Linked DNA regions of Homo sapiens: regions 1 and 3 are each linked to region 2. The links come from fine-mapping of genetic effects on gene expression. A gene starts in region 2. Each other region holds a variant in brackets. All regions are shown on one strand. Distances are between the middles of the regions.

Region 1 (10,542 bases), 29 kb before region 2:
ACAAGCAAACGTGATTCCCAGCAGGGAGCTGGCGGTCTCGGGAATGACCTCCATGTGGGCTCCTGGGGAAGCCCAGGCGACTGTGCAAACCCTGCTGGCGAGGGTGCCGCCCTCCACGGTTTTCCAGGCCCCAGGGTGGGCACATGTGCCGGCTCACGGTGGGTCTGCTCCAACTCCAGTGGGAAGAAGAGATGCCGAGGATGCAGCAGCACCATACGTGGGAATGGGGACAGCTGCGGGGGGCTGGGAGCACAAGTGAGGGACAGAGCCAGGGCAGGTGAGGCCAGACGACGGACATGGTGAGCAGGGTCGGACACAGTTCCTCCTACAAGAGCCTGCTTGTGCCCTTTGATCTCCAACATCTCTCCTGGGTGCTCCACATCGAGGCGCCCCCACGGCACATCTGACCCCTCCTCCAGTAAACCTAAATTAGTTCCTTATTGTGCAACCTGGACAACTGTACATGGCCAACATTCAGGGGTCCCAACAAACTGCCTTGTAAATTGGAGGCCAGAGCCTGGCTTCCCTGTGTGGTGCCAGGCAAGGCACTGCAGCTTACACATGACACACACACGGCACACATGCAGCACACACGCAGCACACACGCAGCACACACATGCCCCTGCTGCTCCCGCCTGACGCCGGCCACTTACTCACACGCCTTCTCCCCCAGACAGAAGAGCAAAGGAGGTGGGAGGGTAAGGGGGAGACTTGAGTAACCTCACAGTACCCTAGATGCTAGGAGAACAGGTACCCGTGGGCCAGGCGCGTGTGCACACCTGCCTGGGCATGACACAGCTATGGGGTGTGTACGCAGGGCTCACATGTGGGGCCCAGAAACCTCCCTGCGTACTCAGATACCTCGTTCAATATCTGTAGCATGAGGGGCACTCCTGCAGGGGTCTGGAGCAATTCTTGGCCTAAGTGGCTATTTGCAGACTCCCCTCTCCCCACAGGCCCGGAGGAGTCGCAGAGTGGCTTTGTAACAGTGCGTTCTCCCTGCGTTTACCCCAGTGGGTTCTACAGGCTGGGCCTTGTCAAAGTGACGGGCAGGCGCTGGGCACTGGTGACAAAGGCAGTGGCAGCACTTGGCCACACTCAGCCTCTGGGGGCCCCGGACGTGCATACATCGCGGTCCTCCCCTTATGAGCGAGGAGACACCATGGCTGCTTGCACCTCGCGTGCCGGGGAACTGGGAGAGTGGGGCTCACGTGTGCATCTGCCCACCTCTGCTGAAGCCTGGGGCCACACAAAGCCTCTTGGGGTCAGAGCTTGCTGGGGCCCCGTGGGGGACGTGAGACAGAGAGAGAAGGTGTGTGTGTGCACACGTGTGAGACTCGGTGTGCCTGGTTGTGCACGTGACTGCGTGCATATGAAACACAGACAGGCGTCGGTCCAGCGGAATTTCTGTGGCACACTTGAGCTGCGTGTAGCCCCCTGCTTCTGACTGTACAAAGACCTCACGCTCTCATCCGAGACCGGAAAGCTGTGGACGGGGTTGGTGGCTCCTCTCGGAGCTAAGCTCCACCTCCCACTCCTCAGTCTGACCCTGGCCTCCCTCCCCAGCCCTCCCCAGCCCTCCCTCTCTCGGTTTTTTTTTTTTTTTCCTTATCCCCACACTCCTCTCCTGCAGCCCTGGCTTCAGGCCCCTCCCCAGCAGAGGCTGCAGCAGCCCCGGTGCAGTGGTGGGATGGGCCTGGCCGGACTTTCCAGTGCCCACTGTCCTATGCCCCCTGCCTGGCACCCCAGCCTGGCCCCTCGTGCCCACCCAGTGCTGGGTAGAGAGGCCCCGTCGTGAGCCCATCACTGCTGCCGCCAGAGGCTACTCAGGCCCAGCTCCTCAGAGGGTTTTTCTCGGGCCCTCTTTTAGTGACCTTCTCTGAACTTCTTGTGGCTGGCTTCATCGTGGGATTGCAGAAAGACCCGAGAGCCCCAGGGAAGGTGGCATTAAATCGCAAGCAATGGCACTTCTGGCACATCCAATCGATTTTGTCGTTCGTAAGAAATGGAAACAGGATGTGGCAAGGAAAAGGCAGTTTCAGGAACAAGGCTTCTCCCCTCGGGCTCTGGAAAGGGCAGGGAAAGGCTCTGTTGGCCCATGCAGCGGCCCCTGGAGTCCAGGCCCAAGATCCCAACCCCCGGCCACAGGACACGGTCAGCAGGTCCCTGCCTGGCTGCCCCACCTCTGGGAGCCCTCCTGCCACCCCGGCTGGCCTCCTGCGGGCTCTGAGCAAGGTCAGGCCCTGGGAACGAGGGAGGGGCCGCTCCTGAGTCCCCGAAGCCCTGGGCTGAGTGGGCCCCACCAAGCCTCCTTGGCCCTGCCCAGCTTCCTCCACTCAGAGCTGCTGGTGCATGTGCCCCAGAACGGGGCAAGGGGGAGGCAGGCACTGCCCCGCAGAGGAGTCTCACCCATCCCTTCCCTCTGTGTCCCAAGACAGGGCCTTGGCTGCTGCCCAGGGTGTCTTGCAGCAGCCCCTCCCCCAGCCAGCCTGTCCCTCAATGCTCTCCAGCAGGCACAGGACCAGAGAGCCACAAGCTGTGTGCCCACCCTGCACACCCACCCACAGCCCTCCCCCCATACCTCCTGGTCCTCGAGCCTATGCTTCCCACAGGCTCCTACCTGGTCATCCAGGCCAGCTGCCATGGCCCAGGAGCCTGCATCCATCCTTCCCTCAGCCACAGTGACACCCAAGGCGGTGCTCACAGCTCATCCCTGCCCTCAGGGCCACCCGAGGGGTCACCAGTGCCACAGCCAGTCATGTTATGTTGCACTGACTTCCCCAGCCAAATGCCTGGGGACCGGGGCTAGAGTTTTTCCTCCATTGTCCATTAATCATGGCTACCATTGTTGCATGGGTTCCTGGAGGTCTGGACCACCTGCCATGTGACGTACTAAGCATGACGTCACGAATGTAGCTGATCAGCATCATTTTCCGCAGACCAGGAGTGTCCCAGAGCACTGGATTGCAAGAGTAGCAAGAAAGTGCCAGTGGCTGGAGCACTGCTGTCTCTCACAGGCAGCTGGGTGGGCCCCTCTCTACTGAGGTGGTTGAGAAGGACACACTTGCTAGACACACCGCACACACCCAGGGCCAGAGGATGTGGTGACTCGGTTCAGTCGAGGTATCGCATCCGGCGGCGCATTTTCCATGTGGGCTGACTCTGCGTTGGGTTGGGTTCATCCATCACCATCGGCCATGATGCTGCTGGTTTTTGTGGACCATATGGGTGAACAGAGTGGGAACAGTGGGGACAGTGGGACTGACCATCCCTGTATCTTTTGAGTCTTTGGGGATGGTCCTAATTTCTGCAGATGCTCAGGATGTGTGGAATGACTCTCTTGGCCAGGGTCTTAGAAGCTTCCACTTGTTCGTTTGGGTTTTTTTCCTGCCAAAATGGCTCATAATCATTAGGTCAAGGAACCAATGGGCAGGCTCTGCCAACTGCAGAGTACAGGCAGCCCCTTCCCTTAGGCACGAGAGGCTGAGGGTCCCAGGGTCACTGCAGGGCGGGCTTGCCTCCAGGTCTCCGGGAGCCCTTACTCTACCCACAGCGGGGTTCTGGGTCCCCTGATATCACTGCCAGCTCAGAGCCCGTACCCACAGCTCTCAAAAGATCAGGAGAGTCTCCTGCCCAGCACATAGTTTCTGTGGGCCCTGGACACTGACTTCTGCCCTTTCAGGCCAGCTGCTCCTGACACGGTGGAAAGATCAGGAGAAGCTGCCCTCCCCAGTGGGCCGGAGGGCTCCAGGCGGCAACAGGGAGGGCAGCACCAGTGACGGGCACACCTGGGCTGAGGGAACTTTGGGCACCCAGGCTCTGGGCCACTCAGCCACTGCCAGGTGGGCACCCGCGTGAACCAGAACTGTGTGCCTGCCCGGCCAGCCCAACCTTGCCGCTTTCACAAGGAGGCACACAGTAGCCCCTCAGAACCTGCCACGGCCCTGCAAGGAGAGGATTCCCCTGGGGCAGGAGGTAGTAGCTCTCGGCCAGGCACTGACTGCCCAAGGTGGCAGGCCCAGGACAGGGTGTGGGTGGGGCCCTCCCTCCCCCGGTTCTGGTGCCAAGCTCTTCCCAGTGTCCTGTGCCTGTGCCCCATGTCCCAGCAGCTGTGTGCAGGGGAGTCATGACCAAGGGCGGCACCCAGTCCCCTGGATCTGAGCCCACTCCGTAAGCTGCCGCCTCACAGCCCGGCAAGGAGCTTCCCCCTACAGAGCCCCTGTCCTTATCTGCCAATGAGGCCAGGCCTGGGGCTCAGGAGGCGGTGGGGAGGGAAGAGGAGCTAAGCCCTGTGAGGAGCTAAGCCGTTGCACACAAGTATGCATTCTGCCCATCTAGCGCTTGGAGAGCATGGTTAATGGAAAGACCCAACTCCGTAGAACACGGAGCTTTCTTCTGAGCCAATATGAGTGACCGCGGCCCAGGAAAAAGTGCACACACCCAGGGAGCCCTGAGTGGGGGGTCCTGAGGCAGCCAGACACCAGCTCTGCTTCCCACCCACCTTAGTGTGACGGAATTGCAGGCAGTCATAGTTCAAGGAGCTTCTACATCGGTTCAGCCCAGAAAGGCAGGGTGTCTTGAAGCAGGGGGCTGACAGGTCGTCAGCGGGGCCAGAGATTATTTCATTTGCAATTAGTTAAAGAAGTAAAGCTTTGTCTATAAATGTGCAGTCATCAGAAAGGAATGTTTTC[G/A]GTGAAGATTAAGAAGTCTTTTAACCGATACACCAGGTCACAGTGGCGTGTGGGGTGCATGACTTGACCCTGGGCTGGCGGCCTTCGGTCCTGTTTATAATTCGAGTCTTAGGGTCACAGTCCTCTGATCACTAGGTTAACGTCACTACTGGTCAGCCCTGCCTGAACTCCCGCAGGGAAGGGGGAGAGCGAGGCACGTCTGCCCTCCTGTCCCATCATGACTGGGAACTCAGTTGTTCCGGTTTCTCTGGAGTCCCTTTGGCCAAGAGGAGCCTGTTCAGTCGGTTGGGGCCTTAGGGTTTTATTTTTATTTTACAGCACGTAGCACTTTTGCACACGGACAGCGTGGCCCTCACAGTTCGGCGCACATGTCCACAGATGTGTGGCTTGCCTGCGCCACAGAGAATGCACGCTTCTGGTGTGAGAATGAGGCTGTGTGTGACGTGTGAATGCTCGGCCCCGGCCGGCCGCAGCCAGGTCCCTGCGGTGGGTCCTCAGGCCCGGAGACCAGGGATGGCGCCCACAGTGGGAACCTGGGCTGACCGGCTGCCCCCGGGGCCCACGCCTGCAGTCGCCCCACTGAAGCCCAGACAGACCCCCACACGGCCTCGCCTCAGAGCCCAGAACCTTCAGCAGGTCAGGCGGGGTGGTGGAAGGATCTCCCGGCCCCTCCAGCCAGCCCCTAAGATGCTGCTGGAAAAACAGCTGTGGCAGGCAGCTCGGGGGGCCCCGGCTCGGTTATGGCTTATGTACAGCCCCGACAGCCAACTGGCTTTCAGGGAGGGACCAACTTCATAGATAAAATTTGTCATCGTATCGATGGCTCCTGTAGAGAAAAAAGGACTTTTACAGCCTCTTGGAGGTCATGAATAATAGAGGAGGAGGAAAGGGGCCGCTTTGGTTAGTGTTCCGCGGGGCCCAGAGGCCCCCATTATCTCAGCTGATGGGAGCTGGGGGGGCCCCAGCAGCCTATGGTTCTCACTCGTGGAAACCAGTGTGGTCATCACCCAGGGCCCCCACCACACTCAGGGCTGGGGGCAGTGCCCATGCGTCCTGTATTCTTAATAAGGGCTCTGACTTGGCGACGGGGTGACCATACATGGCCCTGTCAAAGGGCCCTGCCTCAGTCTGAGAATGACAAGCTGCAGGCTCCATGGTAGGGGCCTGGACCTCCCACTCCGGGCCGTGACCTGGGGCAGGACTCTAGCTGTATCTGCAAGCCGGAAGAGCAGCATCTCTCCAGGCAGCCGTATGTCAGGGGCCAGTGAGCAGACACAGGGGCCAGAGCGTCACAGGTCACCCCCATATGCCCAGAGTCTGCTCCCCCGTCCTCCCACCTCCCTCCCCACCCGTGGTCTATGGGGCCCTGAAGAGTCCCCAAAGGCAAAAATCCTCCTTTGCTTGCCTCCAGTGATGGGGAACTCACTACCTTACTGTCGGCTGTTCCTCCCATGGACAGCTCTGCCTGGTGGGAAGTCCCCCCACCAGCCCCTGTGCAGAGCAGCCTGTGCCTGTGGAGCCCCAGCCCAGGTTCCGGCTCTCACCCAGAGCATGCGTCAGCCCCTCTAACCCCAAACCCACACTCCTCCCTCATTTCCCTCATTTCCTCTCCTCTTCTCCTGGACCCCACCCTCAGGCTTCACTCCCACCAACCCCCAGGGTGCCTGGGCCAAGCCCACCTGTGACCACCACGTGGCAAGTCCTGTGAGGACTTCACTCCTTGTCCCTCCTGACCTAGCACTGGCTCTGAGTGTGCCAGTGGCAAAGACCTGCTCATGCGGCCTCCACCGGCCCTGGACTCACCCACCACCGCCACCCCTGCCTGCCCTCTCCCGTAGTCCTCTCCAGGGCCTTCTCACCGTGGTCATGGTTTATGGGGCCTCTCATGACCCCATCAGCCACCGTCCCCACCCAGCTGGAGACCCTCAACCAAGCCCTCTCAGGGGGTTTCCTGTGGTCATGAAGCAGCTGACGACCCACTGCAGAGACGAGAGCTACAAAGATGCATTCCCACTGTAGCAGAGGGAGCTGGGATCAGGACAGCCTCAGCTGCATTTTCACTGCCCCAGAGGGAGCTGGGCTCAGGACGGCCTTAGCTGGGCGTTCCCACGACAGCAGAGGGAGCTGGGCTCAAGACAGCCTCAGCTGGGCGTTCCCCCTACGGCAGAGGGAGCTGGGATCAGGACAGCCTCAGCCCGGCGTTCCTCCTGCTACAGAGGGAGCTGGGCTCAGGACAGCCTCAGCTGGGTGTTCCCACTACAGCAGAGAGAGCTGGGCTCAGGACAGCCTCAGCTGGGTGTTTTCACTGCCACAGAGGGAGCTGGGCTCAGGACAGCCTCAGCTGGGCATTCCCACTGCAGCAGAGAGAGCTGGGCTCAGGACAGCCTCAGCTGGGCGTTTTCACTACCACAGAGGGAGCTGGGCTCAGGACAGCCTCAGCTGACAGGGGTGCAGCCCTGAGCCCCGGAGACGCCTGGAGAACCTTTGGACCCATTTCCACCACAAGCCCTGGTGCTGCAGTCGGCCAGCCTGCACGAATTTCCCCCCGGGCTGTATGCCAGACAGGGGAAGGGCCAGCCTCCAGGCCTCTGCGCAAGAGGGCCACGGCCAACTCCCACCCCCTGGGCCAACGCTGGCCTCTCTTGTGCCTGGGGTCCTTCTGCTTCAACCAGCTGTGGACCCCACCCCCATCTCCCCCACCCACCGGCCCTTTCTTCTCTGGCCCAGGTCAGCCTAGGGCCTCCACACCCTCCAGCCCCACCCCCGACCCTGCCTGGAGCCATGTATGAGGCCATGCTGAGGCCCAGGGCTCTCCGCACTCCAGCCAGACCATGGTCCAGGGAGAGCTGGGAGTCTAGGCCAGCACCACGTGGCCATGACCAGAGTAGCCACAATCTCCAGCCCCTGCAGCCTCCACTCCCACGTGCCGCCCTACTCCACCCCGGCCACCTTCCAGGACCACCCCAAGGAAACAGCCCAGCCCAGCCAGCTCGCTGGACTTTCCCAGCGCTCAGGAGTGCCCAGCCACTGGACATGCTCCGCCCTCCCGCTGAATGACAGCTGGCCTTAGTTGCTGTGTTCCCGGGGCACTGCTCAGGGTGGGTGCACCACAAAGATCTGGGGAGGGTGGGGCATCCGATCATTCCCAGCTCCCGGGGAGAGATGAGGGTGTGGCGGAGGTCACCTGGCTGAACAGTGACAGAGCTGGGCCCAAACCTGGGCACCACGTCATTGGCACCACTGCCCGTGGGCACATGTGCCCACCTGCCGGCTGCAGGCAGGCCTGACACAACTGGGCTCTTCCCTGGCACTGCCTGGCACAGGCACTGGGGACCCTCCGCGGACCCGGCAGCTCAGCACTCCCCTGGGCCAGCCTTATCTTGCCCTGCAGAGCCCAGGCTGGAGTGAGGCGCAATGGACGGAGGCGAGGAGGGTGCAGCCGAGCCCTATCAGATACGGCCGGAAATATGACCCCGCTGGGACCTGAGCCCTGAGCCGAGCCATCAGCTCACTAATAAATTACCCAGAGCGAATGTCCACAGGGTCAGCCCGCATCGCCTTTCCAGGGAGCACAGAGAGGGGGCGGCACCCAAGGTCTGTGGGCTGACCGTTCCCTCCCCTCTGTCAATGAGAAGGGTCAGGAAGGAGTTGTCCCGGAGCCCCCCGACCTCGGGCAGTGCAGCCTGACCTCTGAAATCTGGGAGGAGCAGCTCCAGCCCTGGGAAGCCAAGGATAAGCGCCCAGATTGGGCACAGGCGGGAGAGGGTCTTGTCTGGCTACAGGACCTCACTCTTCCCAGGAAGCCAGACTGCCAGCAGGACCACCCAGCCTTCCTCAGTGCTCTCCCTGGAACAAGCGTCAGCGAGCCAAGGCCCTCCTGCCAATCTGGCCCACCCCGTTTGTGTAGACACAGAGCGCACTGTGTGCCATATGGCCCTGTAAGAGAAAAGTTTGCTCCCCCATGCCCTGTACTGAAGACGGCAGTGAGGGGAGGGCCGGTCTGCTGAACCCCATCCCAGTGGCTGCGTTGCTCATGCTCTGACGGTGGGTTCCAGGACTCTGTGTCCATGCAGCCCCACGGCTGGCCCTGAGCAGTCACCCTCTGTGCACACTGTCCCCCAGCCTGGCACACCCTGGGCTCCCAGGGGTCCTGTAGCTTTACCCAAGGGAGATGCACCCCCATTCCTAATGGAGAAACACGGGTCTCTCCACACCTCCTCCAGCAGTCCCCTGAAACAGGTCAAAGCCCCACAAACCAGGCAGGGGTCTGCCCACATGTGGTGGTGCCCTGCGCCAGTGATGCCCTCACCAGCCTCTTTCAGACCTGCCTTTACATGCACCAGCAGACGGGGGGGCTGGCGAGGACGGGCCACCAAGCCTGAGCCAGGCTACCACCTCCGGGCTGTGTGACTCTGGACAGGGTGCCTCAACTCTCTGAGCTGCACTTTCACCTACAAATGAGGGGCAGACTCAGCAGCGCCAGGCAGGGCAGTTGGACGCCCACCCAGGACAGACCCTGAGAAAGGCTGATCCCTCACCCCTGCCATCGCTCACTGACCCATACATTGCCCCTTCCTGCCAGGGCAATATCGAGGGTCGGCCAGTGTGCCCCAAAACGGCAGCTTGGGACCCATTCTTTGCCTCTCCCTCTGGCAACCCCAGGTCAGGACTCACAGGGGCACAGGGGCCTGGGGCAGGGCGGGCACTCTCGCCACCACGGAGGCCCCATGCTGGGTCAGGGTCTTATTGGAGGCTGGACTCTGTGATCACCTCACCTCCCGCAGCCCCACAGTGCCCTCCCTCTCCCACTCTGCCCCGAATTCCAATCCATAGGTTTTTCCAAGAGCTGCACAGCTCTGGAATTGACCTGGGAGGGGGCACATTTGGGCCGGGAGGGGTAGGAACAGCAGCAAACTCTGGTCTTATCTGAAATCATGGTCTGTTGTCCACCGGGGGCCTGGGAAACAGCCACCCCCTTCTGCTCCGGGGCCAGCGGCCTGTCCTCGGGTTCACTGCTATTTCTGCCAAAGGGGAGAGGTAATTATAGCCTGGCCGCTGCCAGCTGGCCCAGCTTTGCGATCCAGCAGAGAGGGCTGGAGACGGGACGAAGGCCACAACAGACCCGGCCCTGCCAGCGGGCGGTGGCGCCTCCAGATCAGAGCCCTCGGGAAGGAGGCCTGGGCGGGCCTGGCCCGTTCACCTGTGTGCCCTGCAGTTCTGCCCGAGGCTCAACTCTCAAGGGCCTGGGAGGGGTGCTGCCGGCCAAGAGGGTCCAGGACCTCACTGGACTGTGCCCCACAGGGAGATCCCGAAGAGCCTGTTTCTGTCCCTCGGGGAGCCAGGAGGGAACCAGGTGAGTTCCAGCCCCAGGGAGAGGGGGCTCACTTCCTGCTTGGGTATGAAGATGCCAGAGCGGAGAGATTGCCAAAGGCAGGTGCAGGTGGGGAACCTGCCCCAGCTGGGCAGCAGGTGTGGGCAGAGACTGGGCAGAGCGGAGAGATTGCCAAAGGCAGGTGCAGGTGGGGAACCTGCCCCAGCTGGGCAGCAGGTGTGGGCAGAGACTGGGCAGAGCACACACTGATGATCCTGAGTGACCTGAACAAGCTCCAGAGTGGCCACCCTTCCCCCTTCTCCTGGGACTGATGGTTTCCCTAAAACGGAGACAGTCCCAGGCCGGCCCTGTGTCCACACTGAGGCCAGGCCGCCTCTGGGGGAAGCAGGGAACACGGCCACTTCAAACTTAGCAGCGGGGGTGCTCCTGGCCACACAGGAGCTTCCAAAGGGCACCTGATGTTGCGCGAAACAGCCTGGGCAGTGGGAGAAGGGGCTGCACTCTCAGGGGAATGCAGGC
Region 2 (10,542 bases):
ACTCACACACGTACGCGTGGGGGGTGACCGAGCCTCTGCCCAGGCCTCATGGCTGAAGATGGCTGGAGAGTGGGTACCGTGTGCCAGTAGACAAGCCACAACCCCCATCACAGCGCCACATCCAAAGCTCTCTGAAGACAGAAAGAGCAGCGGCAAAAGTTCGCCAGGATGGGTGTGGGGCCATTCTCGGTCCCTCTCCAGCCCAGTGTGCTGTGAGTCTCAGAGCTGTCACACATGGGACTGGCTCCATCCGCCCTGCCCAAGCCTGAATCACCATGTGCCAGTGTCTCCCGCCTGCTCTTCAGAGTGCGTCTCCTTCTCCATTCTCTGTCTGGAGGCTGAAAGGTGTGGACCATGGCAATGGCCCCGTGCCCTCTGGCTTCCGGCTGGGTTTGGGCAATGGGGTGGGAGGGCGGGAGAGCAAGGTGGGAATTTGCTACCAGGTCCCTCCACTGAAAGTCACTGCTCCTCTCCAGGTGACCCACCCATCCAGGTCCCGTTAGCCAGGGATGGGGACAGCACCACCTCCACTGACCCCATGAACCCCACCACTTCATCTCTTGTCAACCAGCCCTCCTTCAATGACCTTTCCTTGGGTGAGCCATCTGCTGCTGCTGGGACCCTGAGGACACAGTTCTGAACCCCAAAATCCATCTGGCCTGGGGGTGCAAATGAGGGGCTAGGGGCCTATAGTCACAGAGCGGAACGCAGTAAGCCCGCCCCACCTCTGCAGTCTTGGACCAGCTGCTCCGCCCCAGCCAAGGAGAAGGTGGTGGCGAGGCACGGCCAGGGTCAGCTCCACAGCCAGAGGCAAGGAAGGGGCCACTGCCATGGTCCACACCTTTCAGCCTCCAGAGAGAGAATGGAGAAGGAGACGCACTCTGAAGAGCAGGGTCTTTCAGACCCTGAAAGACCCTGGTGCCTGCAAATACCTGGCCCAGTGCACCTGAGATACGGCAGAGGCTCTGGGCCCAGGCGACCCACTGTCCCCTTCCCACCACTGAGCATGGGCCACAACACAACCTCCAACAGACAGAAAAGCCAATTATCTGGAGACTTCAAACATCCAGCCTCACCCCTATGAAATGGCCCGATTTTGGAGTCTTCTCCCATGACCAGATCGAGGAGTTCCCCATGAGATAGGGAAGGGACCCCAGGCTGGGGCCGCTGCCAGCTGACAGCCTCGGTCTGTTCCTCTCATTCCTTTCTGGTCGGTTTCCAGGGATCCTGCCCAGGCTGTCCAGGTCGTTGAAGAATTGGATGTGTCCAGAGCATCCCCGGATCCAGCTCCCCAGAGGTCACAGGGCCACCCAGCCCCTCCCTCACCAAGGCCAGGCCAGGACAGTGGTCAGGAACAGGAGCCCGGCACATGCAGGGTTAACCCTGTCTCTCTTCACTGCCGCTCAGGGTGCCCTGCCAGGATGTGCCATCTCCATGGTGACCGCTGTCCTGGAAAGCCCAGCAATGTGAAGGCTCAGCGCCGGCACGGGCAGGCAGATGAGTTTAACGCAGCATCCCTCCGGCCCGCCAACCACAAACTGCTGCCAGCCCACGTGCTCAATCCTCCCTCAGCACAGCTGCCCCAGGCCCACGGCTGCCTCAGCAAACCCTTCTGCCCCGAAATGGCAAGCCTCTCTGAAGCACAGGTGCCATTCCATTCATTCATCCATTCATTCATTCATTCATTCATTCATTTACTCATTCATTCATTCATTCATTCATTCACTCATTCACTCAGCAGCCAATAATGGAGCATCAAGATGACACTCCTCTGCAAAAAGCTACCCCCAGACTAATTTTCACACTTCTGGGCACGAGCTCTCAGGGCCCAGACTCTGCATGAAAGACACCCCCATAGGAAGAGGAAGCTGGCACCTGAGACATGGCCTCTGCTCCACAAGCTCTGGACGTGCCATGTGCCCCTCAAACAGACCTCACACAGGCCTTGCCCTCACACTGGCAGGAGGGCAGCCGGGTGGCCCCTGGAGGTGGAGTCCCCTTTAGAGGGTTAGAGCATGTGCTGTCCTAAACAGGCCCAGACCTCTAGCAGCCAGAGTCTGATGGGGTCAGTGGGCTCCTCCCTGGGCTGGACGTCCAGTGGCCGTCGATGGCCCTGAGAGCCCTTGTCCACCACATGAGCTCCCTGTAAAGGCCCGTCTCAGCTCCGTGGCTGGTCCTGAGTCCCCTTTACCTACCTGGCACTTGCTCACCTAGTCTATGCAGCTGGACCAACAATTGAGTTGGAATTGGCTGCTCTGTCGCTGGACCCTGCAGACCCCATCTTCCCAGGGGTCCAGAACTTCCTGACATGGCAAGTCTGAAGGGTGGACCTGTTGGCCAGATAACTGAGTCTGCACAGGTATCGGGGCCAGGTGAGTGACCACAAGGCAGCAGGCCTCAGGACCCAGGCATCTTTCTGTCAGTCATTCAACAAACATTATCTGGGGACTCCTACGCACCATCCCCTGTGCTCAGCCCTAAGGACACAGAGATGAATAAGGTGCATGTCTGCCTTGGCTTCACCCAGCTGTGGGTCCCCTAGGGTGGGGTCCCCTGGGGGGGGACCCATGGCCTGAGATGGCTCTTGAGAGCGTTAACCTTCGCCTACAACCAGAACTCAATGGAGTGCTGACACGTTTGACAGATGTCACCCCACAAGCCGTCTGCCAATGGACTGTGCAGTGCATGAGGTGGGGGACAGGTGGCCACATGACCACGTGAACTGAGCCACTAATTCCTGATGGTCAAGAAGGACACAGGCACCAGATGTCCCTGGAAAAGAGCAGGCTGGGCGGAGGTCAGTGGTGGGAGGATTGGTGAACCCCTGAACTGAAGCAAAGGAGCTGAACCTGAAATGCTCCGCCACAGGCCCCTTCCTGACAGCAGGAGCTGCCCGGACCTGACCTCCAGTGGGGTCAAGGCCATGGTGAGCCTCCACAATGTAGCCCCCCTCGACAACCCTAACCCTCACCCTAACCCCCACAGGCCTGAGCATACCAGGCCGTCTAAGGCTTCCTAAATCCCATATGGGCCGGTCAGCAGGGCTGCAGCAGAGGCCACACAGCTGGCCTGCATCCCAGCCGGCTCCACCCCTTGGGAGGATGGAACACCACAAAGAGTGCTGGGAAGGCCTGCAGACTCCCCAGGAATCTGTTTTCTGCCTTTGGAAGGAGATGGTGCTGGCAGTTTGCCACGGCTGACAGACAGTCACCTTCCGTGAGATGGCAAGAGGCAGAGCTGCTGTTACGGCATCCCTGGGCCTGCCGCCCAGTGTGTGCGAAATAGACCATACCCTGTGCGACCTGGACTCCTGTCTTGCAAGCTCTGGGGCTCTTTTCTCCCCTCTCCCTGTCCCCCAGCTTCTGGTGGAACCCCCTATAAAATCTCCCATCACTCTGACCACATAGCTGGGTCCTATCTAGAGAGCCACCCTCTGTCAGCCCCAGCTGGACCACAGGCACCCTGAGGGACACCCAGGAGGTGAAGAAGTGCGTGAGCGATGAACCAACTGTGGCCCCACCTGGCCTGCACCCTCCACCCTCAGCTTCCCAGACTAAAGGGACCTCAAGCGTTGGGAGGCTGACCCTACTCGCTGGCTGTCCCACTCCCTCTTCACACCTGTCTCATTCAGGGAGGCTTCCACCTGCCTGCCCTGCATGCACAGCATGGACTGGGCAACTCTTGGGTTTGGCAACATGGGTGCAGATGACGTCTCAAGCCTCTTCTTGGGACACCAGCCCTGGAGTGGGCTGAGGGAAGGAGGACGGCTGCAAATGGGCAGGACACCACCCTGCGCCCGGCCTGACCCCACCTTGAGCAGGGCTCCAGCCACACAATTTGGGCCCATGGCCCCACAGTACCTGGGTCCTCCCAGGCTGACAGCCAGCTTTCTACTGACCCCCATCCAGAACCTTAGTGTCGTGGGTTGAATGGTGTCCCCCGAAAGATATGCCCAAGTCCCACCCCTGGTACCCGTGACTGTGACTTTGTTTGGAAATAGCATCTTTGCAGGTGTAATTAAGCTCTGGATCTCAGGATATCTCCCTGAGTTTAGAGTGGGCCCTGAATCCAGTGACTGGTGTCCCTGTAAAAAGAGGGAGGACAGAGCAGAGCAAAGGCGCCCTGTGAGGACAGCGGCAGAGGGTGGTGGGACAAGTGGGTTTCAGTCCAGTTGGTGCAACTGTGCTGCAGCAGCCCCAGGGCGCTCCTACCCACAGGCGCTGGGATTCTCATTCCTCCTCCAGAGTTTGCAGCCCCACTCAGCATAGCCCTGGCTCCCTCCCTTCTCCCTGAAGCCCCTCTTCTTCCCCTCTCTGGCCCCTCTCTCAGCCAAAACCAAGCGGTGGGCTCACAGCGGGGGCAACAGGAGGGCTTCCCCACTCCTGCCGCCCACACCCCTCTGAGCCCTTCTCATCTCCCACCTGCGTGCAGGAAGTGAAAACCTACAACAAAGGATGGGGGTGAGGGCAGAGTTTGGGAGGAGCCTGGGTTTCATGAGTGCTCTCCCGGAACCTCTACAGGATCTCGGGCTGCTCCTGGGCACAGCAGGCCTCAGCCAGGGGAGTGGGAGGGCCCACAGAGGGCACCCACAGAGGGAGTGGGTGGGTTCACAGAGGGAGTGGGTGGGCTCACAGAGGGGGTGGGTGGGCTCACAGAGGGGGTGGGTGGGTTCACAGAGGGGGTGGGTGGATTCACAGAGGTGGTAGATGGGCTCACAGAGGGCACCCACAGAGGGAGAGGGTGGGTTCACAGAGGGAGTGGGTGGGCTCACAGAGGGAGTGGGAGGGTTCACAGAGAGCACCTGCAGAGGGAGTGGGTGGGCCCCCAGAGGGCCCCCAGGGTGCCACTGGCTAAGGGTGTCACCGCACCCCAGGTGAACCAGGTTGTATGGGCTCCAGTATCTAGCCGGAGCAGGAAAGAGAAAGAGGAAAATGCAGGCCAGGAGGAGGAAGGCGCTGAGCCCACAAGGCACAGCCCTCGCCCTGCAGTCTCTCTCCAGCTCCCCATCCAAGGCCTGAGCTCGAGGTGGGCCTGGGTGGCTCCCCTCCAGACAGCCATCTGCCGTCCCTTTCCCGGGGCGATGGTGCCGGGTGGGGCTCCCCAGTTCGCCTTGTCACTGGGACCTGGAGAGCTCAGTGCAAGCCCTAGACCGGGCTGGGAGTTGTCGCCGGTCCTGGCGAGTGTGGCCCGGCTGAGCCCGCCCAGGAAGGTCCAGGCCTGCTGGGTGATGACAGTGCAACATCTGCAACCCAAGGGAGCAGATGCCCGGAAGCGGGAGGTGATGCGCAGCTGGGGAGGGGAGGCACTGGCCTTGTACGCAGGACCGGTGGTCGTCATGGTCCCTGGATGTGTGTGTAGACAAAGGGCGGTCTGAGTGGAGGGGGTGAGGGCGGATTGTTGACATTTGCGGGCCTCGGAGCTGCCTGAGAGACGGAGGGACTCGCGCGCCTCCCCGGGGAGGTGGGTCTGGGGGCGCTGGGGGCATGGAAGGGGCGCCGCGCCGGGAGCGGCCCCCACTTACCCCTCGTGTCCCTTGCAGAGGAAGAAGAGCGTGCGCCAGGCGTGCGCGGCGGCCAGCAGCAGAGACAGGAGGCTGGCGAGCAGGCTGAAGCGGCAGGCGGCCGGCGGGCCCCACTCCTGCACCGTGAAGCGCTCGCGCTCCTGCACCGTGAGGTTGGCGCTCAGCCACATGCCCTCGGTGAAGAGCAGGCAGCGGCCGCGGAAGTCGTGGCCGTTCTCGGACAGCGGGACCACCACCACGAAGCTGAACAGGAAGGCCAAGAAGTAGCAGGCGCACTGAGCGAAAAGGAAATTGTTGAGCGCCATGGCCGGCCCGGGCGAGAGCGGCGGCGGGAAGGCCGCGGGAGGCTGCGCCGGGCGGGGAGGCCGCGGGAGGCTGCGCAGTGGCGGCGCCGGCAGGTCCCGCGCGCCCCTCCCGGGACGCGTGCGCATCGGCCGAGCGCGGGAAGCGCCTGCGGTCAGCACCGCGGACAGCTCCTGGTGCGCGCGGGCCAGGAGCCCGGGGTCCAGGGGCCAGAGAAGGGCGGCCTGCGGGAGATGCGGGAATTTTACCAGGTCGGCCTGGAGGGACCGACCCTGTGCCGCTAAAGACTTCGGGAGCCACCTGTACGGGCCTCACACAGGCCGACTCTGGGTCGTCAGTTCCTCATCAGCTCGAACGAAAGGAGACCAGGAGAGAGAGGGCGGGGCGGGGGGTGTTGGAGGACACCCCCAAGGTGCTCATAGTGAGGTGTAGGAGTGCGGTTTGCAGTCCAGGCTGAAGTGATTCCTTTGCGGGGGTCCCGAAATGCAATGTATGAGGGGAGGGGCCAGATCGTGGAGGAGTCGGGGTCCAAGGGACTGGGACAGAGGTCATCCTCGAAGAGATGGGGAGGGTGAGGCCAGGTGTGGGCAGGAGGGGGTGGACCGGGAGCTTCTGCAGCGCCAGCCCTCCGCGGGGACGTGTGTTACACTGCCTGACATGGGCAGGACCCTGGAGCTGCATTTGTAAGATAAATAATGGGTGTCCCGAGCGCCTCATTAAGACATCTTTGCTGAGATGGAAATCGCTGAGGCATTAATTAATAGAATTAATGCCTTTTCTAGTTGCCTTTAAGACTAAGTCACCTTTAGTCCAATTCCCAGAGTGAGGAAGCCTTAACATTGCTCCTCCTGGTTTAAAATTCCATCAGCATTTTTGTTGCAAGCATTAAAAAATATTTTTGTTTTATTGACTAAGTAATATATGCTCATTTCTTAAGTCAAGTAATAGAGATATGTATACAATAAAATAGAAAGCCTTCTCCTCATCCCCCTCCCCTACCCCATCACACTACCAGGGGTGACCACTTCAATAGCCTGGCATCTATTTTTCTAGACATTTTGCTAAGCACATAAGCACACACACAGAATTAACAAAAATGCTTCATACCATACATAGTTTTCTGAAGGCTGATTCTTTTATTCAACAAAATGTCAAGGAGATTATTCCCTGCCTACACATACACCTATTTTGTTCTTTTTAATAACTGCATAAGACTCCATTATAATGATGATTCCACAATCTGCATAACTATTCCTCTTAAGGTGGATGTTTTGTGTCTCCAGTTTTTGCTGTCTCAAATGCTGTCATGTGAACATTCTTGTACACATATGTTTGCGTTCTTGCACAGGCATTTTTATAAGAGAAATTCTTAGAAGAGGAATTGCTGGGTCATGGGGTATGCACATTTAAAATGTTGACAGAAATTGCCAAACCGGCTTTAAAAATGTTGTTCAGCCGGGCGCGGTGGCTCACGCCTGTAATCTCAGCACTTTGGGAGGGCGAGGCGGGTGGATCACGAGGTCAGGAGATCGAGACCATCCTGGCTAACATGGTGAAACCCCGTCTCTACTAAAAATACAAAAAAATCAGCCGGGTGTGGTGGCGGGTGCCTGTAGTCCCAGCTACTCGGGAGGGCGAGACATGAGAATCGCTTGAACCTGGGAGGCAGAGGTTGCAGTGAGCCGAGATCACGCCACTACACTCCAGCTTGGGCGACAGAGCGAGACTTGGTCTCAAAAAAAATAAAAATAAAAATAAAAAAATTAAAATGTTGTTCAAATTTACCCTCACATCTGGGTTGTAGACCCCTCCCCTCGCTGGCTGAGAAACAGCAGTTGTAGGCAAATCCTGCCAGTTTCCACAGAATGCGCTCATTGCTGTGTGAACTTGGACTTGCTTTGGCATCATGAGGCTGAGCATATCTTCTTACGCTTGCCACCATTTGCAACTTCTTCTCTTCTGTGGATTGCATTTCATTTTGCAGTCACTTTAAAGTCGGGCCTTGAAGGCCAGCCACGAGGTCAGCAACGGCCACTCTTCTCTTGGAGAATCCACTCAGGGTTTTTACCACTCTTGGAGTATCCCCAATTCTCCCCAAAGGGAGCTCACTCAGGAAATTCACCCCCTCCCCTAACTTGGGCAAGAGTGGAAGTTCCATCCACTCATTATCCAGCAGTTGGACCAATTTGAACACATCTGGGGGTGTTACACTTCCAGACTCTGGCCAACATGAAGGAGACCATGACAACTGACAGGGAACCGCCAGCACTGGAAACCGCAGACTAGGCTGGAAAGATGATTAAATATCTGCCATTTTCAAAGGTCAAAGGTGCGAGACTCTGGCATGTCTGTGATTAGTTCCACTTACCTTCAAAAATCAAAGACTTATCTTGTTTGTATTAGTCAGGGTTCTCCAGAGAAACAGAACCAATAAGATGGAGAAAGAGAGAAAGAGAGAGATTTATTTTAAAGAACTGGCTCATGTGATTTTGGAGACTGGTAAGTCTCGAATCTGCAGGGTGGGCCAGCAGGCTGGAGACCCAGGAAAAGTCAATGTTGTGGTTCAATGTCGTGGCTGCAGAACTCCCTCTTACTGGTGGGGGGAGGGGGATTGGGAGGTGGGGTCAGTCTTTGGTTCTATTCAGGCCTTCAACTGGTTGGATGAGGTCACTGCTATAGTTTGAATGTTTGTCTCTTCTGAAATTCATGTAGAAACTTAATCCCCAATGTGACAGTGGGGCCTTTAGTAGGTGATTTGGTCCTGTCCTTATGAATAGATGAATTCTTTTCATGGATTAGTGGTCTCATGGATTAATGGGTTGCCCCAGGACTGGGACTGATGGCTTTATAACAAGAGGAAGAGAGATGAGCCGGCACACTCAGCCTCCCCACCATGGATGCCCTGCACCACCTTGGGACTCTGCAGGGAGTTTCCACCAGCAAGAAGGCCCTCACCAGATGCAGCACCTCAACCTTGGACTTCCCAGCCTCGAGCACCATGAGAAATAAACGTCTTTCCTTTATAGATTACCCAGTCTCTAGTATTCAGTTTTAGCAACAGAAAACCGACTAAGACACTCATCCACATTATGGAGGATCTGCTTTACTCAAAGTTCACCATTTAAATGTTAACCTTGTCCAAAAATACCCCCACAGAAACATCCAGAATAATGTTTGACCACATACCTGGCACCTTGGCCCAGCCAAGTTGACACATAAAATTAACCATCTCTTTATTGAAGAAATTCCAATCTACGGAAAATGTGGAAAACTCCAAAATTCACTTTTAAAAGCCAACATTACATTAATACCAAAATCTTACCAAAATTGCGGGAGAAAGAAAGAAATAGGAAATTACATATACAAATATGGATGCAGAACACTTTCAAATAAAATATTGGCACACTGAACACAACCCAATGTATTAAGAAAGTAAGAAAACATGAATGGGTAGACTTTAGTCTACAAATGAGAGAATAGCTTTGCTTTAGGAAATCTATCAATGATATGCTACATCAACAAATAAAGGAGGCAAACTCACCTTTTCGTATCAAGGAATATCAAAATGCACTTCCTATCATTGAATATCCACTCCTGATAAAAAAAAAAAAAACCTCTATGTAAAATAAAACTACCTAAATGTGGTCAAGACTACCTTAAACCACATTATAAATCCGCACCCGTTCAAATCAGGAACAACACAGGAATGCTCACTGTTGCAACTATTATTGACCATTTTGGGGGCAATTCTACCTAATGAACCAAGACAAGAAGATAAAAGAAGCAGTATAACTATGGAAACAAAGAGGCAAAACTATCTTTATTGGAGGATAATATGATTCTATACCTAGAAATCTCAAGATACTCTATAAAAATATGATAATTTGCAAATTAATTTTGTTCTGGATCTAAAACCTGGCTTAGGTCCAGAAACTGGGCCGGGTGTCATGACGTCTCCTGTCAGGCTGCCCTTGGGATGGTTCCCCTTCATGCCCTATGATGGTGTCAAGTGCACCAGAGTGAGAGATGCCTCTGCCTTTCCTCCAGGGATGCCCAGTCCTGTTGTCCATCTCCTCCACTTTCTGTTGGTCAGGACACGCTGGCTCCTTCTTTGACTTTGCTGCTCGTTAGGACCTGAGCTCACCTTGCTCCCGACGATTAGCTGGCACCACCTGGTCTGTCTTATCTGGGGATCCCACCAGCCGCATTGTTCTCAGGGCACCCAGTCCTGTGACAGCAGCTCCAACCATCATCCCGCTGAGCTTCTCAGTGATTCTGCCCCCTCCCCAGTGCAACTTTCTTGCTCTGGTAAATGGAGACTCTTCTGCAGCCACCCTTTCTCCACCCAGGAATGCAACCTCGGTGGGTGCTGCAGCCTTTGTAGCACGGACACTCGAGCACGCCCCTGTCCCTGAGTCCTTGCCCCCTCTCCCACCATCTGTCCTGGCTGTTCTATTTTACAGGGTTGAGTATCCACTTTCCAAACTTCTTAGAGCCACTTAGACGAGTTTTCTGTCACTGCTGCAACAAAATGCCACAACGGCACAAATGGATTGTCAGACAGTTCTGGGAGGTGAGAACATCCCAGGGTCAGAAGTCTAAAATCAAGGCATCTGCAGGGCTTTGTTCTCTCTGGAGTCTTCAGGGGAGAATCTGTTTCCTCGCCTTTTCAGTTTCTAGAGGGTTCTGCGTTCCTTGGCTACTGGCCTCCTTGCTCC
Region 3 (10,542 bases), 98 kb before region 2:
GTTATCCCTCCCAAAGCCAGCCAGTGTGCTGGGACGTGACCCAGAACTCACAGCCGGTCCTTCCATATCTGGGCCTCATTCCTGCATCTGGTCTGTGACCCAAGGCTGAGCCTTTGCTGCCCATGGGGCAAAGGATGAGGCAGACAGTTCTCCCTCCAGTGGGGAGCTCATGTTCTAGTGGGAGAAGGAGAGAGACCTCCTAAAAGTGAGCAGAACAAAGACCCTGGTACTCAGGGCAACACAGAGTGGGTGAGGCAGGGCTGTGGAGGAGGGAGTTGAGAGCAGGGTAGGAATGACCTGCCCTTGTGCAAGCATTTTCTTTCCAATTTCCACCATGCTCAAACTGTAACCTGAGGTTATGATGCCCATTCCTGGGAATTCATGTTCTACTGATCTGGAATAATTCTGACCTAACTGGCTAAAAATTAATGTGTACATTATCTTTGATAAAGGGCTTGCTCTGCAATTTGTAGTATAAAGGGATCACAAGGTAAATACTTTAAACCAGGGCTCAGCAAACTTTTTCTGCAATAGGCTGGCTAGTAAATATTTCAGCCTTGGTGCACCATGCAATCTGTTGCAACTACTAAACTCTGATGTTGTTACGTGAAAGCCGTCATAGACAGCAATACGGTTTGGCTGTGTCCCCACCCACATCTCAAATGTTAGCTCCCATAATTCTCACATGTTGTGGAAGGGACCTGGTGGGAGGCCATTGAACCATGAGGGCAGGTCTATCCAGTGCTGGTCTCATGATAGTGAGTAAGTCTCACAAGATATGATGGTTTTACAAATGGGAGCTCCCCTGCACATGCTTTCTCTCTTGTCTTCTGCCATGTAAGACAGAACTTTGCTTCTCCTTCACCTTCCCCCATTATTGTGAGGCCTCCCTAGCCATGTGGAACTGTGAGTCCATTAAACCTCTTTTTCTTTATAAATTACCCAGTTTCAGGTATGTCTTTATTAGTAGCATGAAAATGGACTAATACAGACAGTACGTAAACAAGTGAGTGTGGCTGCATTCCAGTAAAACTTTATTTATAAAAATGGGCAACAAGCTGGATTTGGCCCATAGGCCACAGTTTACCAACCCCTGCTTTTAAATACCAAAGTGAATTCACTGGTTTTTCTGCAGTGTACTGTCCCATCCAGTGAACTTTTCACTTCAGAGATTGGCACAATTTGCCACTTCTAGAAATTCCACTTGGAATTTCTGTGTCCCCTATTTCTCTCCTCGCTCTGTTCATGTTTTCCTTTAAGTCCTTGAGTATATGGAACATATTTATAACAAGTGTTTTAACATCCTGGTTTGCCTTTTCCATCACCTCTGTCAGTTCTGGGCCTATCTCTATTATTAATAACTAATTTTTTCCTGTCGATAGGCCCTACTTTCCTACTTGTTTGTCTAGTGATTTTTGATTGGATGCTGGACATTGTGTTGAATACTGTACATTGTTGAGTTCTGAATTCACTTACATGCCTTTAAAGAGTGTTGGGCTCCATTCTGGCAGGCAGTTAAGTCACCTGGAGAGAAGTTTGATGCTTTTGAGGGTGAGTCTAGAGTCACCTTTCCTCTTGGGTGAGTTAAGCCCCACTACTAAAGCAAAACTCTTCTGAGTCTCTAGTGAATGCCCATGTCTTCAATAACTTCTCTCCATTCTGGCTGGTGGAAACTTAGATGGTTCTAAGCCATTCACCTTGCAGCTCTCTGATAATTGTTATTTCTTCAGCATTGCCCTTGAAGTTTCACGCCTTGCGTGGGACAATTGACATTCAGGCACAGACCTATGGGAACCCCTATGCAGAATTCTGGCACTCTTTTTCTGCCTATTTCCCTCTTCTCTGGTATTCTGCCAGCAAATTCTAGCCATCTCAGCCTCCCAAAATTCTGATCTCTATCTCCTCAATCCAATGAGACCACCAGGCTCTGTGTGGATCCCTCCTCTCATAAGAAGACAAAGAGCTGTCAGCCTTAAGGAAGGACGGAGAACTGAAAAAATGTCCAGCCATCCTAAAGGAATCTCCAAATCAGTACCAAGGAAGCAGGTCCACCACACCTTGACTAAGGCCTTCCTTCCCCATCACAGCCCATTACTCCATAATCCAGTCCTCAGCATAGCAGCCCTCCTGGACATTGTCTCCACACAGAAAGTCCAGGCCTCAGAGGGGTCACTTTATTTGTTTCCCTCTGAATGGGTGTCTCAGTTCTGCACTTGCTGTGGTTTGAATGTTTTCCCCCCAACCTCATATTGAAATTGGATTCCCAGGGTTGGAGGTGGGGCCTAATGGAAGGTGGCTGGGTGGTGGAGGTGGACCCCTCATGCATAGATCATGCCCTCCCTCAGGGAGGAGCGAGCTCTTGCTGTTAGTTCTCATGAGAGGGGCTTGTTGAAAAGGGCCTGGCACCTCCCCCATCTTGCTTCTTCTCTTGCCATGTGGTCTCTGCACACACCAGCTTCCCTTCACCTTCCCCTGTGAGTGGGGAAGGTGGCACAGCCTGAGGTCCTCACCAGAAGTTGAGCAGATGCTGGCACCATGCTTCTGTCCAGCCTGCAGAACCATGAGGCAATAAAGCTCTTTTTCTTATAAATTACCGAGCAGTAGGTATTCCTTTATAGCAACAAAAATGGACTAAGACAGCGCTCACTCTCCAATGTCTGAGAACAGTCGTTTCATACTTTTTTGCCCAGTTTTCTAGTTGCTTAACTCAGAAGAGTGAGTCTGGAAGCTGTAGTAGGAGACTCTGCCCATGGATCTTAAATAATATAAAAGTACTCATTTCTATCTAACCCACTTTACCACTTTAATATAACTGTGGTGAGTTGGCAGCATCACAGACTTTAGGTTGGACGGAGCTTAGAAACCACGTGGTGCTAGCCTTTCACATTGCAGACAGAGAAAGGGAAGCCCAGGGAGTGGTGGGGCATGGCCGTTTAGCAGCTGGTGGCAAGCAGGCTGATACAAGACTTGTCTATCCCTGCACCACCCTCAGCTACTGCCCACCCATGTCCTCCTGCAGCCTGGGCACCCAGGTAACAGCTCTGAACTCCGTGTTTACAACCCCCATGCCGACACACATGCACACTGCTGCATAAGCATCAATTTCCTACCAAGTTGGTCCATGGGCCAGCGGGCTGCACCTAGAGGAGATCTGTCCACACCAGCCCGCCTGAAAACAACCGAGCCACAGTGCTGGGCCCAGAACCCAGTACAGCCCCCTTTCCTCTCAGGCCATCCCAGCCTACCAGAGGAGTCTAGTAATGCCAGCCCTCCAAAGCAAGGTTCCTCAGCAAACCACACCCCGCCCACACCACAGAGCCCTCAGGCCACAGCATAACACACATAACACAGCTTCTCATTCATTTAGGGGCTAAATGTCAGCAACTGCAGGCACAGGTCTCTGCTGAGGCCAAGGTATTAGACCTGCTGGGGAGAGGGAGGAGCAGTTATCAGCCTGCCCTGAGCTGGAGGTGGGTGTGCCTCAGACCTCGTGCCAGCCTGGGTCCTGCCACCCTCTAGGTGTCACCGGCCCCCTGGGCCCCCACACAGAGAGTGAGACTCATTCAGCAGGAAGGGCTGAGAAAGCTGGGAGGGGTGGCCGGCAGCTGGCACAGCACAGGCTTCTCCATGCACGCATTACCTCCCAGGGTTGCCTGACTGACTGTTGAGAGTCAGGCTTCATCCTGGTGCTGCAGGTGCCCTGGAGACATGAGCTGCTAAGGTGAGGCTGCCACAGAGGAGGGCGGCTCCCCATCCCTTTGCTTGGGACTGAGGGGTTTCCCAGGGCATGGGACTTTGAATGCCAATGCCGGGAAGGCCCCAGGCAGACTGGATGAGTTGGTCACGCCACCCTAGTGTAATAGCTGATAGGCTGACATCTCAAAGATTCACATCCTGGTGGCTGGGGCCTGTGAATGTGTGACTTCACATGGCCCCTGCCGGTGTGATTAAGTCAAGGACTGGAGCTAGGGAGTGGCTCTTGGATGGGGTGGACCCTGCATGCAATCACGGGAATCCTTTTAAGAGGAAGCAGGGGCAGATTTGGCAACGCAGAGGAGGAGACCGCGCAGACAGAGGCAGAGATGGAGGGGTGCAGCCACACCAGGGCCACCTGGAGCCCCCGAAGCCTGGAGAGACAGGGACGAGATTCTCCCTTTGAGCCTCCAGAGGGAACCAGCCTTGCTGACATCTAGATTTTAAAGCCATGAGACTTGTTCTGAATTCCTGGCCTCTGGAAATGTGAGATAATAAAGTAACGTTTTCTAATAAGGCCAGACCTCCAAAGCAAGGCTCCTCAGCAAACCACACGCCACCCACACCACACAGCCCCTCAGTCTGCGGATTCACAACACAACCCAGGAGATAGGACCCGGGAGACGCCGGCCCCCGCCTGCAGCCAGGCTGAGCTTGACGGCCACAATAGGGGCAGCCATAGCAGAGGGCTGCCTCAGAAGTTCTGCTTCACCACCGGGGAAAGTGCCAGGAGGCCTGGCACGTCCCGGGATAGTGAAGACGGGTAGCCACTGGGCCACCTGGAAGGTGACTGCGGCACCTGCACCCCCCGCATGGTTGCTCCCCACCCCCAGAGCTGCTGCAGGCACACCTGGCGCCTGCTCCAGCCAGCCTTGGCATCTTCCTCTCTGTTCCTCCCTCCGGGCAGGGCAACTGGGCAGGCTGGACACCCAGCAGGGGAGCTGTCCACATCAAGAGCTCCCCTTCTACTACCATTTCTGGGCCACGTCCTCCGCCCTCAAAACAGCAAACCCGTCTCCAGTGCCAGACTCGGGGCTGCACATGACCAGGGCAGGAGTAACTGAACTCGCAGAGGACAAAAAGAAGAAAGAGGAAGGGAATCCCTTCAGCGCCACAGCTGAGCTGTGTTTGCTGTAGTTTCTCCAATTTCTTTGTGAAAATGTAATCGCGGTCCCGGAGCACGTGGGACCCTCTGCACACTGACAGTGGGAGGGAGACTCACTGCAGGGGCTGCCGAGAGCCCCCGCCTGGGGTCCTTGACCTGCTGGGCTGGGGGGCTGGGGAGAGTCTGTGGGTGCAGAGAGCTGAGTCTCTGGGGCTGGGGCCCCTCCTCCTCCATGTCTTTCAGACAAGGTGTCAGGGCCCCACCTGGGACCACACTGACCTATCATAGCCAAGGTGACCTTGGCTGGCTGGCCCCTGAGTGAGGCTGGGGAAGGAGGCAGGAAGCAACAGGCCTGGATTTGGGATGACTGCCCCGCTGGGACCTCCTAGAAGGTGTCACCCTGAGGGGCCAAGAGGGAGGTGAGCCTCAGAGCTGAGGTCCACCTGCAGCCTTTGCCTGACCTTTGGTTCTGGGGGCAGCTTGGGGACCCCCACCTGCCACTGTCAGCCTTTCCACCTGCAGGGTCAGGCAACTTAAAACCTGAGGACATCACAAAGCAGGAAATGAGTTCCTAAATAGAAACCC[A/C]CTGGGGTCTCCCACCTACTACCACCCCTCCTCCTCTCCTGCCTCCCTGCTCCTCCTGGCATGTTGGCTCCCCCAGCAACGCCGCCCTCCTCTCAGACACACACTCCCTACCTGCCTGCACCCTTACCCCACCCAGCCTCCTCTGGCCTCCCTGGCCCCCAAGTTCAGCCTCCTCGTTCCCTGTCCCTGCTCTGTCCCACCCAAGGAGCAGTGTGCAGCCCCTCCCCTGCACCCCTCCCTGGCGACCTCACCCCACATCTTGGCGCCAGGCACCTCCAGACACTCTCCCCACTTGTCTGCCATTAAGGAGACCTCTTGTCCTAGAAGCTTCCAGCAAGGCAACCACCACATTGCAGACCCCCTTCCTCCTGCCCCCTGCCCCAGGCCCAGGTTTGGAGCAGCTGCCCATCGCAGAGCAGCCACCGTGGGGTGTCAGCTGGCCGGGGTCACCTTCTCAGTGTTTGGCCATTTCCTCACTGGCAGGACCCTGAAGCTTCATCCAAAGCAAGAGGAGAAGACAGGTAAGGACTGCAAGCCACACTGGGCGCTTGGATCTGGAAGAGAAGGGCAGAGACTTGGCTGGCTGAGGGTGAACCTCTCCTCCACCGTGGGCAGCCCAGGCCCTGCCTGGAGAACAAGCAGAGGGGGAGATTCTCCCTCAGGAGAGAGCGGAGGGGGAGATTGCCCCCAGGTTGCCATGGGGCTGGGATAGAAGATTCTGTGACCAGGAAATGGCCCAGCCTGCTGCTCCACCTGGCTGCAGCCACCCCTTTCTCCAAGACCAGACTTATGGGTCTGTCTCCCTGCTGCCTCCCTCTGCCGTTCTGCAGCTCTGGGGAGCTCTGTAACTGGGGGGCCCAATTCTGCCATTCTGCAGCTCTGCAACTGGGGGGCCTGGGTCGGTGGGGAGGTGGAAGTTGCCCCTGCAGAGAGTGTGTTCTCTTTTCGGGGAGACCTGGGCCTCCTGGTGCTGGAGGGGCTCCCAGCTGTGAGTAGGCAGGCCCCATGTAGCAAGGAGACAGCTCGCCATGTGGACTCCCTTGGGTTTGGTGATTGGTCACTGCCCACTGGCGTGCACTCAGTGCGTTCCTGGGCCCACCCAGGCTTCTTGATCTCTTGTGATGTTTGTAATCTGGCATTTGGGAGAGAGTGAGGTAAAGGCAATTTTGCAACTGCAATAAAACCAGCAAAGTGATCCTCTGATGGTTCTTAATGAGATCCGTCTATCTCCCCTGACTGAGCCGGCAGACTGCAACCCCATGTGTGAGGTCAAAATGAATGTCACATGGTCCCCCACAGAACCAGAGAAGCCATCACCATGGTGCCTGGCCTAATCTGCTCCAGCATCCGACAGGAGTGATCAGAAGATACTCACAGGAAATTGTTTTTCCTGCCTCGTAACCATAACAACAGATGAGAGCTGGTCTTGCTCAACTTTCCGAGTGAGCATCTTTGTCAACATGTAGCCAAACCCAGGACACAAAAGCAGAGACCAGGGCTGGCAAAAGGGCACTTTGGAGATATCAGGGTTTGGGGCTCCTGTGAGGTCTGGATTCTCCCCTCTCCTGCCCCACCCGACAGGGATGGCTTAGAACGTTCCTGAGTGTGGACTAGAAGGTGGGTGGAAGGACAATGGGCCCCCTGGAAGTGTGCATACCTGGCATCACAGTGAGCTGTGGCTGCTGCCTGGGCAGAAGCTGAGAGGCTGCCTTGCTGCCCAGAGTCCCCACAGGCCTGCAGGTGGGCACCAGTCCTTGCTTCCCAGATTACAGTCAAATGCTCTGCCCATATCATTCCCTAACTCTGACAGCACCAGGTCCAGATCTATCCCCTAAACTGCAACAGTATTGCTGAGAGAAATTAAAGAAGAGCTGAATGAATGGAGAAGTATACCAAGTTCATGGATGGGCAGACTCTCTATGGCTAGGATGTTGTTCAGCCACCCCAAAATGATCAGTAGACCGAATGTGATCTTCATAATAATTCCAATGAGCTTTTTGACGGAAATTGATTGATTGATTCTAAAATGCATTTGCAAGTGCAAAGACCTGGAAAAGAAACATGATCCTGGATAAAGAGCACCGTTGGACTAATACGATCTGATTTCAGGATGCTGCAAAGCCCAGTAATCAGGGCAGTGAGATACTGGCGAAGAAATAGACACTTAGATAATGGAAGAAAATGTAGAGACAAGAACTAGACCCATAAATACATTTCCCATCGATTTTTAGCAAAGGCTGCAAGGAAATTCAATAAAGAAAGAAAGTCTCTTTGACAAATGATGTTGGAGCAACTGGATACATTTATGGGGGAAATAAACCCCAACCCCTTCCTCACACCATACATGAAAATTAATTTAAGATAAACCACAGATCTAAATCTAAAATATGGACCAGGAAATACCTAGAACACACAGGAGAAAATCTGCAACATTGAGGTAAACAAAGACTCTTTAGAGAGGACACAAAAGGCTCTGGCCAATAAAGAAAAAACAACAAGCAGAAATTAATCAACATTTAAAATTTCAGGTCATCAAGACATTGTCAAAAAACAAAAAGGTATTTCATAAAATTAGGGAAAAAAATATATGTGTGTGTATATATATGTGTATATATACACACACATATATTTTCTCTAACTCTATTAATATATATGTATATATATATGCACACACATATACACATATATATACACACTCACACACACATACATCTTATATCCAGAATATATTGAGAGTTCTTACAAATCAACAATAAAAAGACAATCCACTTATCCAAAATATATAAAGAGTTCTTACAAATCAATAATAAAAAATCCAATTAAAAGATGCTTCATAAAAGAAGACACATAAATGCTGGATAAGCACATGAAAAGATGTGTAACATCATTAATCATCAGGAAATAGATACGAAAATCTCCAGGAAGTAGTTTTTTGCCCATCGGGTTGACAATACTAAATGTCAGTGTGGATATGCAGAAGCCGGAACTCGCCTATACTGCAGGTGAGGGTACAAAACGGTGCTGCCACTTAGAAAACTGCTTGGCAATCTCTTACATAATTAAACCTCCACCTGTCCTATGGCCCTCCTAGCTATTTATCCAAAGGAAATAGAAACATTTGTACCCCAAAAATACTTGCACAAGAATGTTTATAGCAACTGTATTTATAATAGTCAAAAACTGGAAACTACCCAAAGGTACACTGGCAGGAAAAAGCATAAATAGATTTTATATTTATAAAATGGAATACCCTTCAAAGATAAAATGGATAAACTACACAGATAAAGCTCAAAACAACTTGGTTGGGTGTTGGTTATGTGTGTGTATTTGTCAAAACTCATCAGGTTGTACCCTTAAGATCTGCACATTTCACTTTATGTAAAATTTATTTCATAAAAAGCAATTTCCCCAAAACAATATGATAATAGCACAAAAGGGCTGCCCTCTCCCCTCAGCCACGGCCAAGTGTGATGTTGCACTCAGACCCCACCCGAGCGTCCTGGCTTTGAGTCTCCTTCAGGATGCCCAGGTGTACACTTTGCTCGGAGCTCCGGAGCAGCAGACAGGGTTGCAGGGGTGGGGGGCTGCTGCCCTCCAGTGGTGCATGGCCCTAGCAGGTCCCCCCTCACCACACTACAAGCTCCCCACTGGAACCCTGGAGCCCGCATGCCTCCCAGAGGGCTCGTGCAGGGACCCCCAGGCAGCAGATACGGGCACCCCACGAGTGTGGCCACAGGAGGCTCCGTGAAGGGCAGCAGCCTGCAGCCATCACTCTGCCAGTCTCCCCGAGACACCCCAGTGCGCCCTGCAGTAGAGCTGGCTGGCCGGGCTGGGATCTGCAGACAGGTGGCAGCTCCACCTGGAAGGATAGAAAATGCAGTTGGGATTGCCACTTCTAGGTCTTGCCTGACTTCTGCCCTTTCCCAAACACAGGGCCTTGTGGTGCCTTCAGCTGGTCCCTCCTCCTGGAGTCCCCTCCCACCCATCCCAGCATCACCTGCAGCACTCTCCCGCCAAGGTCAGGCTCAGGCAGGGCCTCCCACCCCCATCCAGGAGGCTTGGCCAGGCCCATCCTCTAGGGAGCTGGGGACCTGGCCTTCCAAGAGCCACCAAGACATGTCTCAGAGGTAGATGGGGGCTGGGCAGTGAGCCGGAGCCTGCCCCCTCCCCTCCTGCCCCAGGGCCAGGGGCAGCAGCATGAAGCCTCCTGGTCTCCCTTCCATTCCCTGGCCAGGATGGAGACGCCCTCAGGGCTGGTGCAGGCCTCCAGCCCCCATGCCTAGTGGCCTGGGAGACAGCCAGCCCCACCAGATGAGGATGTGAGCCACACAGGCAATTTTCTCTAGAAATAAATGGAGAGAAATTGCTCTAACAGGCAAACGGCCTCTGTTTCAAAGCTAATTTCCACATAATAGAACCAAACTACTTCCCTTTCCTCTCCTCTGTCTCTTCTGCATAATTTGACAAATTGCAAAGCTATTTGATTCGGGGGCTCAAACACAAGCACTGACTCCAATAGTCAGGGACAGATGGGGAGAGGGGAGAAGGCAAAGCTCCCCAGAAAGCGCCCGCTGACTCCAGGGCTCTGAGAGGACATTTCTGGGACTGGCAGGTCAGAGTGCAGGGGTGGGGCAGTGGCCAGGGCTGGGCACCTCCGCATTCTGCCACCATCTCCCCAGGCGAGCAGAGGCCCGTCTGGGAAGGGCTGCCGTGGTAGCTGATGCACAATATGTCCCGCGGGGCTTGCCAGCGCGCTCCTGGCTCTGATCTGGTGCCTGGCAGGGCCAGCCCTGCTCCCAGCCAAGACCAAGGCCTGTGCTTGTGCTGCCGGCTTGGCCACGTGCTGAGACCGAGCCAGACCCAGCCAGGAGAAGCAGCTGGTACCTGAGCACCCCAGCCAGGCCACGGTGCCCGTCACCAGCGCCGCACAGCCCGCCCCATCTTCAGCTCCAGCCGCCGAGCTTGACAGCTCTGGCCCTGGAATCCCCACAGGCCCTGTGTGTGTCTCTCCTGCATCTCCTTCCCTGTCCATGTCCTCCCGGGAACTCAGAACCCCCCTCGCCACCCGGGGACCTGCACATCCCTACCACACACGCAGC

Direction of the effects. Positions count from the first base shown, and alleles are read on the strand shown. Sizes are in standard deviations (SD) of each study's normalised expression. Not every link is listed here.
For the expression in cerebellar hemisphere of the gene that starts at base 5,857 in region 2, C is the low allele of the variant in region 3 and A is the other (small effect, 0.26 SD a copy in GTEx).

Evidence for each region. PIP is the estimated chance that this variant, and not a neighbour inherited with it, causes the effect. A credible set is the group of variants that fine-mapping cannot tell apart.
Region 1: its variant is the best candidate, but not a certain one, in a credible set for the expression of TMEM179 in stomach (GTEx, PIP 0.68).
Region 3: its variant is the best candidate, but not a certain one, in a credible set for the expression of TMEM179 in cerebellar hemisphere (GTEx, PIP 0.85).

Annotation. Positions count from the first base shown.
Region 1 is chr14:104,569,960-104,580,501 of GRCh38, forward strand. It overlaps C14orf180 (chromosome 14 open reading frame 180), which reads left to right and starts at 9,805. Exons shown (of 5, transcript NM_001008404.3): 1 at 9,805-10,044. RefSeq lists a silencer at 1,479-1,679. The variant G/A (reference allele first, on the strand shown) is at 4,692.
Region 2 is chr14:104,598,916-104,609,457 of GRCh38, forward strand. TMEM179 (transmembrane protein 179) reads right to left here and starts at 5,857. Exons shown (of 4, transcript NM_001286389.2): 1 at 5,522-5,857. The coding sequence starts at 5,826.
Region 3 is chr14:104,500,812-104,511,353 of GRCh38, forward strand. No RefSeq gene overlaps it. Among named protein-coding and RNA genes, the nearest start is that of C14orf180, 74 kb to the right of the region's middle. The variant A/C (reference allele first, on the strand shown) is at 5,444.